3 linked regions of the Homo sapiens genome follow. Each later gene encodes a partner of the first gene's protein in a complex. Each region holds a gene or a part of one and is shown in the gene's direction. Other genes may lie near its edges.

What was found.
Region 2: PRPF8 (region 1) and LSM4 share a complex: the UniProt entries of both Homo sapiens proteins name them as parts of the U4/U6-U5 tri-snRNP complex.
Region 3: PRPF8 (region 1) and PRPF3 share a complex: the UniProt entries of both Homo sapiens proteins name them as parts of the U4/U6-U5 tri-snRNP complex.

Annotation. Positions count from the first base shown.
Region 1 is NC_000017.11:1,660,746-1,664,393, reverse strand, and holds part of PRPF8 (pre-mRNA-processing-splicing factor 8), read left to right. Parts: intron 1-2,240; coding exon 2,241-2,488; intron 2,489-2,603; coding exon 2,604-2,783; intron 2,784-2,987; coding exon 2,988-3,123; intron 3,124-3,231; coding exon 3,232-3,401; intron 3,402-3,566; coding exon 3,567-3,648. UniProt on the Homo sapiens protein: Plays a role in pre-mRNA splicing as core component of precatalytic, catalytic and postcatalytic spliceosomal complexes, both of the predominant U2-type spliceosome and the minor U12-type spliceosome.
Region 2 is NC_000019.10:18,305,939-18,309,586, reverse strand, and holds the end of LSM4 (U6 snRNA-associated Sm-like protein LSm4), read left to right. Parts: intron 1-2,031; coding exon 2,032-2,123; 3' UTR 2,124-3,351; downstream 3,352-3,648. UniProt on the Homo sapiens protein: Plays a role in pre-mRNA splicing as component of the U4/U6-U5 tri-snRNP complex that is involved in spliceosome assembly, and as component of the precatalytic spliceosome (spliceosome B complex).
Region 3 is NC_000001.11:150,331,467-150,335,114, forward strand, and holds part of PRPF3 (U4/U6 small nuclear ribonucleoprotein Prp3), read left to right. Parts: intron 1-1,217; coding exon 1,218-1,301; intron 1,302-1,512; coding exon 1,513-1,733; intron 1,734-3,468; coding exon 3,469-3,648. UniProt on the Homo sapiens protein: Plays a role in pre-mRNA splicing as component of the U4/U6-U5 tri-snRNP complex that is involved in spliceosome assembly, and as component of the precatalytic spliceosome (spliceosome B complex).

The DNA of each region.
Region 1 (3,648 bases):
TGGTTACATTGCTTAAGTCTTCTATATCCTTAGTGATATTTTTTGTATACTTCTATCGATTACTGAGGAGTATTAGAAATCTCTAGTAATCCCAGCAGTTTGGGAGGCTGAGGCTGGTGGATTGCTTGAGCACAGGAGTTCGAGACCAGCCTGGGCAACATAGCGAAACCCCATTTCTACAAAAAAAATACAAAAATTAGCTGGGTGTGGTGGTACACGCCTGTAGTCCCAGGTGCTTGGGAGGCTGAGGCGGGAGAGTCTCCTGAGCCTGGGAGGTGGAGGCTGCAATGAGTGGAGATGGTGCCATTGCACTCTAGCCTGGGCAACAGAGCAAGACCCTGTCTTGCTTGAGAGAAAGATCCAACTACAGCTGTGAGTTTATTGTCTTTCAGGTCCATCATTTTTGAAATTCTGTTATTAGTTACATAATGTATTTAGGATTATTAGGTCTTCTGAACGAGTTGACTACTTTATCGTATCAAATATCCCTCTGTATTCCTGATAACATTCCATGGTCTGAAGTCTTTGTCTTAATCAGTAGTGCCACTCCAGCTTTGTTTTGTGTTTGCATGGGTGTATTTTTCCATCTTTTTACTGTTAATCTGTGTCTTTGTAACTAAAGTTTATTTCCTATAGACAGCATATAGTTGGCTCTTTTTTTTTTTTTTTTTTTTTTTTTTTTTGAGATGGAGTCTCTTCCTTGGTTGCCCAGGCTGGAGTGCAGTGGCATGATCTTGGCTCAGTGCAACCTCTGCCTCCCGAGTTCAAGCGATTCTTCTACCTCAGCCTCCCAAGAAACTGAGACTACAGGCGCGTGCCACCACGCTCAGCTAATTTTTGTATTTTTAGTAGAGACGGGGGGTCTCACCATGCTGTCCAGGCTGGTTTCGAACTCCTGACCCCGAGGCCCGCCTCAGCCTCCCAGAGTGCTGGGATTACAGGTGTGAGCCACCATGCCCGGCCTTTTTATTTAAATCCAATTTGACAATGTTTGCCTTACAAATGGTCTAAATACCTCAATTAAGGTTAATGTAACTATCAATGTGGCAATGTAGCTCAGTTTAAATCTACCGTCTTACTCTTTTTTTTTTAAATTATTTTTTCTGCTTTTCTCTTGTCCTGCCTTCTTCTGAATTTAGTTGTTTTGTGACTTTATCTCCACTTTTCACTTATTTGGCTACATGGTTTTTTTCTTATTGTTTGCTCTAAGGTTTACAGTATATACATAGCTCACTTACTGTGATCTACTTTGACCATTAGTCTACTACGGATCACTTCACATATAGTACAAGAACCTTAGAATAATACACTTTAAGTTCCACTCCCACTCTTAGTAGTATTTTTGTCATAACATTTTAATTGTACATGTATTATAAGTGCTATAATACTTTGTTACTCTTTTTGCTTTGAACAGCCTTTATCTTTTGTAGAAATTGCAAAATGAGAAAAAATATTTTTTTGCATTTTACCCACATACTTACCATTTCTGGTGTTCTTCACTAGTTTGTATAGCTCCATCTGGTGTGCTTTTTTTTTTCTTTTTCTTTTCTTTTTTTTTTTTTTGAGACACAGTCTTGCTCTGTCTCCCAGGCTGGAGTGCAGTGGTGCGATCTCAGCTCACTGCAACCTCTGCCTCCTGGGTTCAATTTCTGTATTTTTAGTAGAGACGGTTTCATGTTGGCCAGGCTGGTCTTGAACTCCTGACCTCAGGTGATCCACCCACCTCGGCCTCCCAAAGTGCTGGCATGACAGGCGTGAGCCACCACACCTGGCCCAGGGGAACCATTTTTTTTTTTTTTTCCCCTGAGATGGAGTCTCGCTGTGTTGCCCAGGCTGGAATGCAGTGGCACAATCTCAGCTCACTGCAACCTCCACCTCCCAGGTTCAAGCGATTCTCTTGCCTCAGCCTTCTGAGTAGCTGGGATTACAGGCGTCTGCCACCACACCCGGCTAATTCTTGTATTTTTAGTAGAAACAGGGTTTTGCCATGTTGGCCAGGCTGGTCTCCAACTCCCGGGCTCAAGCAGTCCTCCCACCTTGGCCTCCCAAAGTGCTGGGATTATAGGCATGAGCCATCGCGCCCAGCCTCATTGTGTTTTGCTTTCTATTTCCCTAGTGACTAATGATGTTGAACTCAAATCTTTCTTTAGTAGTAGGGATAAAACTAACTGCATCAAGTAGTCTCCACCCTCCCCGCCCCTGGCTCATCTGTAATTTACTTTTTTTTCTACTACCTTTAGATTGTGAATAAGTGGAATACAGCTCTCATTGGCCTTATGACATACTTTCGGGAGGCTGTGGTGAACACCCAAGAGCTCTTGGACTTACTGGTGAAGTGTGAGAACAAAATCCAGACACGTATCAAGATTGGACTCAACTCCAAGATGCCAAGTCGGTTCCCCCCGGTTGTGTTCTACACCCCTAAGGAGTTGGGTGGACTCGGCATGCTCTCAATGGGCCATGTGCTCATCCCCCAATCCGACCTCAGGTACAGCCTGGTTCAACGTATTTCTAAACCCTATTGCTCAGGCCCTAAGGGAAGTGGGTATTTCTTTAGTTTTAGGCTTTATTTTTTCTGTAATCTTGGTTGTACACCCAAACAGGTGGTCCAAACAGACAGATGTAGGTATCACACACTTTCGTTCAGGAATGAGCCATGAAGAAGACCAGCTCATTCCCAACTTGTACCGCTACATACAGCCATGGGAGAGCGAGTTCATTGATTCTCAGCGGGTCTGGGCTGAGTACGCACTCAAGAGGCAAGAGGCCATTGCTCAGAACAGGTGGGCACCTAGGAGGGCATGCCAACCCTGGGGCAGGGGCAGTGGTGGCCTTTGAACCGTGTGGAGTTCAGGGTCAGAGCATGCCATGGTTGTATGGAGGTGAGAAGGCTGGTTCTACTGACCCTAATTATTTTTGGCCAGGAAGGAGTGCTGAGCTCCTCATATGAGATCACGTTTTGACTTGAATCTTTCTTTTTTTGGAAGACGCCTGACTTTAGAAGACCTAGAAGATTCATGGGATCGTGGCATTCCTCGAATCAATACCCTCTTCCAGAAGGACCGGCACACACTGGCTTATGATAAGGGCTGGCGTGTCAGAACTGACTTTAAGCAGTATCAGGTATGTAGAGGGAGCAGATTTTCCCTGAGTCAGGAAAATCCATGGCTATCCCCGAAACTTGGGGCAATAGGCACCCAGAAGCTTGACCGTGCCTGCCTTGCCATCTAGGTTTTGAAGCAGAATCCGTTCTGGTGGACACACCAGCGGCATGATGGGAAGCTCTGGAACCTGAACAACTACCGTACAGACATGATCCAGGCCCTGGGCGGTGTGGAAGGCATTCTGGAACACACACTCTTTAAGGGCACTTACTTCCCTACCTGGGAGGGGCTTTTCTGGTGAGGATTCTCCTCTCTTAGAGGGACCTGTCACAACCCTTTGAGCTCATCTCTTGTATGCCTCTGTGATTTCCTGTGGTGTTTCCCAGACAGCCACCTCCAGGAGGTTAGCAGTGTGCTGGGAAATGGCAGGATATCACCTCACCTGCTTCTCTTGCTCCCCAGGGAGAAGGCCAGTGGCTTTGAGGAATCTATGAAGTGGAAGAAGCTAACTAATGCTCAGCGATCAGGACTGAACCAGATTCCC
Region 2 (3,648 bases), on another chromosome or scaffold:
CTCGGAGCCTCCCAACCCTCCCGGGCCCCCCTCCTGGTCCTTGGCCATGAGCCGAGGCCCAGGCAGAGGAGCCCCGAGACCTGGGACTCAGCCCTCCTCTCACTGCGCCTCCTGGCGGTCCTCAGGGCACATCAAGTCACCTCCCCAAGCCTCAGTTTCCCCTCTGAGAGGGTATGGTGGTGCCCATCTGTCCAGGCCGCTGGCAACTCCACTTGGAACCTGGCGTGGCTCTATCCAGAGCCAAGGTCGCCCGCCCCCACCGGAGATGATGAATTGGCATAAAATTCCATTTGTTAGGCCCAGGGGCCATCTGTAGCCCCTGCCCTTCCTCACCTCTCTGTCCCCAGCTCTGTGTTCTCGGGGGGACCTGGGCTTTGCTTCTGCCATCCATGGGCACTGCCTGTGTGCTGGGCTCAGGTGCCAGCCTGGGGGCTTGCAGCACGGCATGGCTGCCCCCGGAAGGCCCCAGGCGCCAATTCTGTGCAGGCTCACGAGGTGGTCAGGAGTGAGCCCGAGGGAGGGGCAGGGATAGTACTCCAGGCAGGGAGCTTTGGGGATCTCAGGGTGGGTGGGGCCTCTGGGGTCCCCGGCCTGGCTCCTTCCCAGTAGTTGGGGTCAAGGTTGTTGAGAGAGTGGGTCGGGTCCTACCTAGGGAAGTGGGGGGTTTTCTCTGGCTGCTCTGCAGGAAGCCACTGGGCCATGGAGTGCAGATAGCAGCCTCGCAGTAACCCCCACCAGGCTGTGCACCCTAGCACAGCTGGTCCTGCCTGGTGAGAGGGGAGGTTGGTGGCCCAGGCCAGCGTTGGCCTCTGGCCTCTGTCCCCACAGGGCCTGGTGGCCCCTGGCTGGTGAGAGCCCTGACCTCTTAGATCCTCTGAATCTGGACCCCTGACCCCACCTTCACGGGGTTGAGGTCTGCAGAGTAGACCGTGATTCCAGTTCCTGTTGGGGTCAGTCCTCCTGTCCCCAGACCTCCCTGGCCCACGACTGAGCCTCCCAGCGGGCTCTGTGGAGGGCCTGAGCTATGCTGCCTGCAGCGCTGGCCTCTGGCCCCTGGCACCCAGCACATGGGCCACAGGGCCAGCTCCTCTTGCTGGCCTTGGCTCTCCTGCTGTTTGAAGCTCCAGCTTTGATTTCCTCAAGCGTTCGTCCAGCTAGAAAGTTCTCTGAAACGGCTCCCTAAACGGGGCTTACAGAGCTGGGGTCCCCAAGGGAGACAGAGAGGGAGGGATCAATGTTGGGTCCCGGCCTGACCAACCTGCTGCGTCCAGGCCTGGCCTGTGGTGAGGGTGGCGTGAAGGGGCGCCAGGCACACAGAGGGTGTGGGGACAGGCGTGCCCTGCGTGCAGCCTGCTCAGGATTACTGGAGGTGCCGCTGTAGCGTCCACTCAGTCCCTGGGGCCCTCATCTCCCGGGAACCCCCTGTCACCTCCCCAGTGGCCACATGCTCCCACCTCAGGGGCTTCATGGAAAATGTCATTTGTCCTCATGGTCTATCTCTGGCCTCAGGCCTGCTGGGGAGTCCCCTCCCCTTCCCCATCCCTGGGGCTGGATACACAGAAATCCCTCTTTCTGTTTTCCTCCTGGCAGGTAGATGAGGGGCTGTGGGTGGTTGTGGCGCATAGGAGGCCCCCCCCCCGCCAGGGAGCCCCCAGCCTGGCCTACTGCCCTGGTCTCTGCTCCACGCCTCTCCTACCTCCTCCTCCTCCTCCAGGAAACCCTTCTGGCTTTGTCCTTTAGGAAGCCTGCCCCAACCCCCAATGTGACTTAGTGTCCTCTGTCGCCTAGTCCCCCCCCCCCGCATCCCTGGGGGCTGGGTCTAGTCCCATAATGAGGATGCCCTGGAGTTCCTGCCTTCCTCAGATGCTCTGCCCCACGGAGGAGATCCAAGCACCCTCAGTCACCACCTCACACATGAGGAAGCTGAGGCTGGAGACTTAGGTGACCTGGCCTAGAGTTTCAGGGCGCCGGGATCCTGTCGAAGGTCCCACCCACCTGGCTCTGCTGCAGCGCCCTCTCTCTGTCCTCTAGGTGTGTTTGGTGGCCGGGGCCGAGGTGGGATCCCGGGCACAGGCAGAGGCCAGCCAGAGAAGAAGCCTGGCAGACAGGCGGGCAAACAGTGAGCGCCCACCCAGACCGGCTGCTGCGCCCCCTCCTGCCAGGGTGGCGATTCCGCTCCACAGTCTCGGACGGATCTGCTCAGAAAGGAAGAGGCAGGCGCCAGGGGGAACCCCCTTCGTGTTTTGTGACCCTCCCTTTTAGGTGAAGCCCCTTTTTCTTGCTAAAACCGGCAATTCTCCGGTTAGAAATGTTACTTGGTGTTTTTTGGTTTTGTGAAACGGCCGTCCCAAAACTGGCTGGATTCCTAGAAGAGTCTGTGTTGAAGGCATCTTTCAAGCCCTCGCTCTGGTTCTCAGGGCAGCATTTTCCAGGCGGGTTTGTTTTGCATTTCTTGGAGCCTCTCCGAGCAGCAACCAGACGGGAGATTTTTATTTTAAGCTGTTCATGCTGGGACTGACAGCCTGCAGGGTTTCCTTGGGCGCGGCCCCAAAATTGCCTTCAAAACAAACCCGGGACGGTTGAAAGCCTTCGAACCGTGCAGGGGATGCCTCGGGCCCTGGCCCTTCGCTTCCTCTCTTGTGTTATGGAAATAAAAACAAATAAAACTACACACTGCACATCCACTGTTCCTTTTGAGCTTCTGGGTGCACCTAGCGGGTCTCCTGCCCTCTGTCCATCGCTGGACTCTCAGGAAATCCCCGTTCCCGTAAGGGAAGCTTCCTTTTGAGAGTTCTCACCAGGTGTCAGCGGCACAGTGAGGCACTGATGTCCTTTTACAAAAGGCAAGACCAGCATCTGGACAGTGGGGGCTCTTGAGAGTCCCCGGCGCCCCCCACACCAGGTTGTCCTATAACCCTCTCCCCTCTGTGGAGACGTTAATGCCAAGGGGTGTGTGGGGAGGGAAGTCCCAGGCAGGGGCCACGCATGGTCCCCATCACCCCCTCCTGGGTGGCCTGGACTCCATCATCTATCCTCATCTGTCCACACTGGCGTTCACACAGAGAAGACAGGACAGGAATCCCCTCGGAAGATGCTCATGGAAGATTCTCACGAGGCTCCTGCCCCCTTTCTGAGCCAGGCCGGGTTTGCCACTCCTCGGGCGCGCACCTGAGACACTGAGTCAGCGCTTTCGAGAAAGGCTCCGGGTAGCATCTGTGGACCGTGAAGAAACCAGAGGGAAGCCCTGAGCCAGGCAGCGGCCCGTCCCCCTGCATAGCCTTCTCTTCAGGGTCCTCGTTCGGAGACCTATTTTGAGAGGTGATTGGAATAAAAGGTCCCGTCCGTGAGGAACTCTTTTTCTTGAGTCTTCAGAGTTACTTGCCATCGTATAGATTTTGCATTTACAATGTCCTCGCCTGGGATGTTCTCCTTGTGTGTGGGGTGGGGGACAGGGATGGATATCTGCAGTCGCCTGAATCCTCTCCGCCACAGCGGCACTTGATTGATGGTTAGAGATGGGGCATGTGGGGTCCAGGATGTGGCCTGCCCTGAACCTCACAAACCCGCCCCCTCAACACAGGCAGGGGCAGCAGTTGGGGGCCCGGGCCTGGAAGCCTTGGGATGCACCGGCCCACGGCACCCACCTGC
Region 3 (3,648 bases), on another chromosome or scaffold:
CGCTTCTCCTGCCTCAGCCTCCTGAGTAGCTGGCATTACAGGCGCCCACCACCACACCCGGCTAATTTTTGTATTTTTACTAGAGACGGTGTTTCACCATGTTAGCCAGGCTGGTCTTCAGCTCCTGACCTCAAGTGATTCGCCCACCTCAGCCTCTCAAAGTGCTGGGATTACAGGCGTGAGCCACCATGCCTGACCCTTCCGTAATTTTTGAATTTTGAATATATCACCTATTCAAGAAAAAATGTTAAAGACAAATGTTTAAAAATATCTTGAAGCAGTTTAAGAACAGGTCTGTTTTGCAAAATGTAAGAGGAGTTGTTTGGCCATACCCTCAAAGCTTATCATTCTGAACTTCTTTAGGACAGAAGGGGTTTATAGAGACTAGGGAGCAGGTCTTTGCACCATCGTCTCTTGTTTCCCAAACTAGTAGTTCAAGTACTAATATCATGATTTTTTAAAAAAAATTAAGTATAGGCTGGGTGCGGTGGCTCACACCTGTAATCCCAGCACTTTGAGAGGCCGAGGTGGGCGGATCACGAGGTCAGGAGATCGAGACCATCCTGGCTAACAGGGTGAAACCCCATCTCTACTAAAAATACAAAAAATTAGCCGGGCGTGGTGGTGGGCGCCTATAGTCCCAGCTACTCGGGATGCTGAGGCAGGAGAATGGCATGAACCCGGGAGGCAGAGCTTGCAGTGAGCCAAGATCGCACCACTGCACTCCAGCCTGAGTGACAGAGCGAGACTCCATCTCAAAAAAAAAAAAGAAAATTAAGTATAATATTTTGTGTAGGTTCTGTTAGGTTTGCATGCATTATTTAAGTGGTTAACACTAGACCTGTAAGGTAGGTACTGTTTTCTTCCCCCTTCTAGACACTTAGGAGGTTTAGAGACTAAGTTCCTTATCCAAGATAACAAAGGCATTAAGTGGCAGAGTTAAGATTCAAACTCAGGTTTCTCTGACTCCAGAGTCTCAATCATCACACTATATTACTACCTAATATGCTAATCTTGCTTTAGGAACATGGGTTGAAAAATTCCAGTGCTCACTTATCTTGACTAAATTTTTTGCACTGTGGTGCAGGCAGAATGTGGTATAGTCATTCAAAACATTTTAAGTGTCTAGACCTGAGAGCCTTGTGGGTTTAAAAACCTGAATGGGAGAAGTAAGAAGGAGAAATTAACAGTTTTTCAATTTTTTTCCTGGAGAGCAGATCAAACAGATGATGGAGGCAGCAACACGACAAATCGAGGAGAGGAAAAAACAGCTGAGCTTCATTAGCCCCCCTACACCTCAGGTATTGTGTCTAGATTACTCTGAACAGAATAATCTTTGGCACAGAATTTCTTGCCATCCACTCAAAATGAGAGACTAGAAGAGGTGACTACATGTTTCACTTCATAATCATCTGCTACAGTCTACCATGATGTGTGTGTATATCTGTGTGTATGTATGTGTGTTTGTCTGCCTGTCTTAATTCCTCTGATTTCTTTTTCTCTATCTCACAGCCAAAGACTCCTTCTTCCTCCCAACCAGAACGACTTCCTATTGGCAACACTATTCAGCCCTCCCAGGCTGCCACTTTCATGAATGATGCCATTGAGAAGGCAAGGAAAGCAGCTGAACTGCAAGCTCGAATCCAAGCCCAGCTGGCACTGAAGCCAGGACTCATCGGCAATGCCAACATGGTGGGCCTGGCTAATCTCCATGCCATGGGCATTGCTCCCCCGTGAGTGTCTATTTCATGGAATACCTTTTCATTTCTGAAGTTTGAGAAGCAATAAATACCTTTGAATGTTACTGATCTGGCTGGGCGCAGTGCCTCAGGCCTGTAATCGTAGCACTTTGGGAGGCTGAGGTAGGTGGATCACCTGAGGTCAGGAGTCAGGAGTTCGAGACCAGCCTGGCCAATATGGTGAAAACCCATCTCTACTAAAAATACAAAAATTAGCCAGGCGTGGTGGTGCATGCCTGTAATCCCAGCTACTCGGGAGGCTGAGGCAGGAGAATCGCTTGAACACAGGAGGCAGAGGTTGCAGTGAGCTGAGATCGTGCCACTGCGTGGGTGACAGAGGGAGACTCCGGCTCAAAGAAAACAACAAACAAAATATTACTGATCCTCTTTTTCCACAGAACCTAGATCATTTCTCACAGTTTCATATTTCTTAGGTGTGATTGATTAACCAGTTGAATTTTTTCTCGTCTTCCCTGTTGGAGGGTTTATTATCTTCTTATGATTTATATAACTGAGATTAAGGTTATTCATCTAATGTTGGAGCTAGGAGTATAGCCAGGTTTCCTTCCTGGTTTCAAACTCAGATTTATCCATTAAACCACATTGTGTGAGACTAGATCTGAGGTTCCTCTGCAACTGGTCAAAGATGTTACATTTTTTTTAGCATCTACAGTTGGTCTGGCATCCCATGAGTGACATAAGAATTCAGGGATAAGGAAAGATAGGATTATAAATTCATATAATTTATAAACTCATTTCATTTGGTTGTCCTGTATACTGAAATATCCACTTTGATATTTTTAATCAAGATACTATTGGCAGGGCGCGGTGGCTCACACCTGTAATCCCAGCACTTTGGGAGGCCGAGACTGGCAGATTGCTTGAGCTCAGGAGTTCAAGACCAGCCTAGGCAACATGGCAAAACCCCATCTCTCTAAAATATACAAAAATTAGCCAGGCATGGTAGAGCATGCGTGTAGTTCCAGCTACTTAGGAGGCTGAGGTGGGAGAATTTCTTTGGGCCTGGGAGGTTGAGGTTGCAATGAGCTGTGATTGTGCCACTGTACTTTAGCCTGGGCAGCAGAGTGAGACCATGTCTCAAAAAAAAAGATGGTATTGCTCACTGATGAGATTGTTCCCTAGAATTATTTTATTGTCCTTTTTGTTGTTGTTGTTGTTGAGAGGGAGTCTCACTCTGTCACCCAGGCTGGAGTGCAGTGATCTCGGCTCCCTGCAACCTCTGCCTCCCAGGTTCAGTAGCTGGGACTACAAGTGCCCGTCTAAATTTTGTATTTTTTGTAGAGATGGGGTTTCACTGTGTTGCCAAGGCTGGTCTTGAACTCCTGGGCTCAAGCCATCCACCCGCCTCAGCCTCCCAAAGTGCTGGGATTACAGTGTGAGCCACCACACCCGTCCATCCAAATAACTCTTATAGAGAAGGCACTGCAGCCTCAACTTCCTGGGCTCAAGTGATCCTCCTCAACCTCCTGAGTAGGTGGGACCACAGGTATATGCCACCGCACCCAGCTAATTTTAAATTTTTTGTTGAGATGCAGTCTCCTTGTGTTGGCCAGACTGGTCTTTAACTCCTGGGCTCAAGTGATCCCTCTGCCTTGGCCTCCCAAAATGCTGTGGTTCCAGGCTTGAGCCACCACGCCTGGCTTTATTTTGTTTTTTGCTTGCCTTAATGTTCCATACAGGATTTATTTCTTTGCGGGCTATTTTTCAGGAAGGTGGAGTTAAAAGACCAAACGAAACCTACACCACTGATCCTGGATGAGCAAGGGCGCACTGTAGATGCAACAGGCAAGGAGATTGAGCTGACACACCGCATGCCTACTCTGAAAGCCAATATTCGTGCTGTGAAGAGGGAACAATTCAAGCAACAACTAAAGGAAAAGCCATCAGA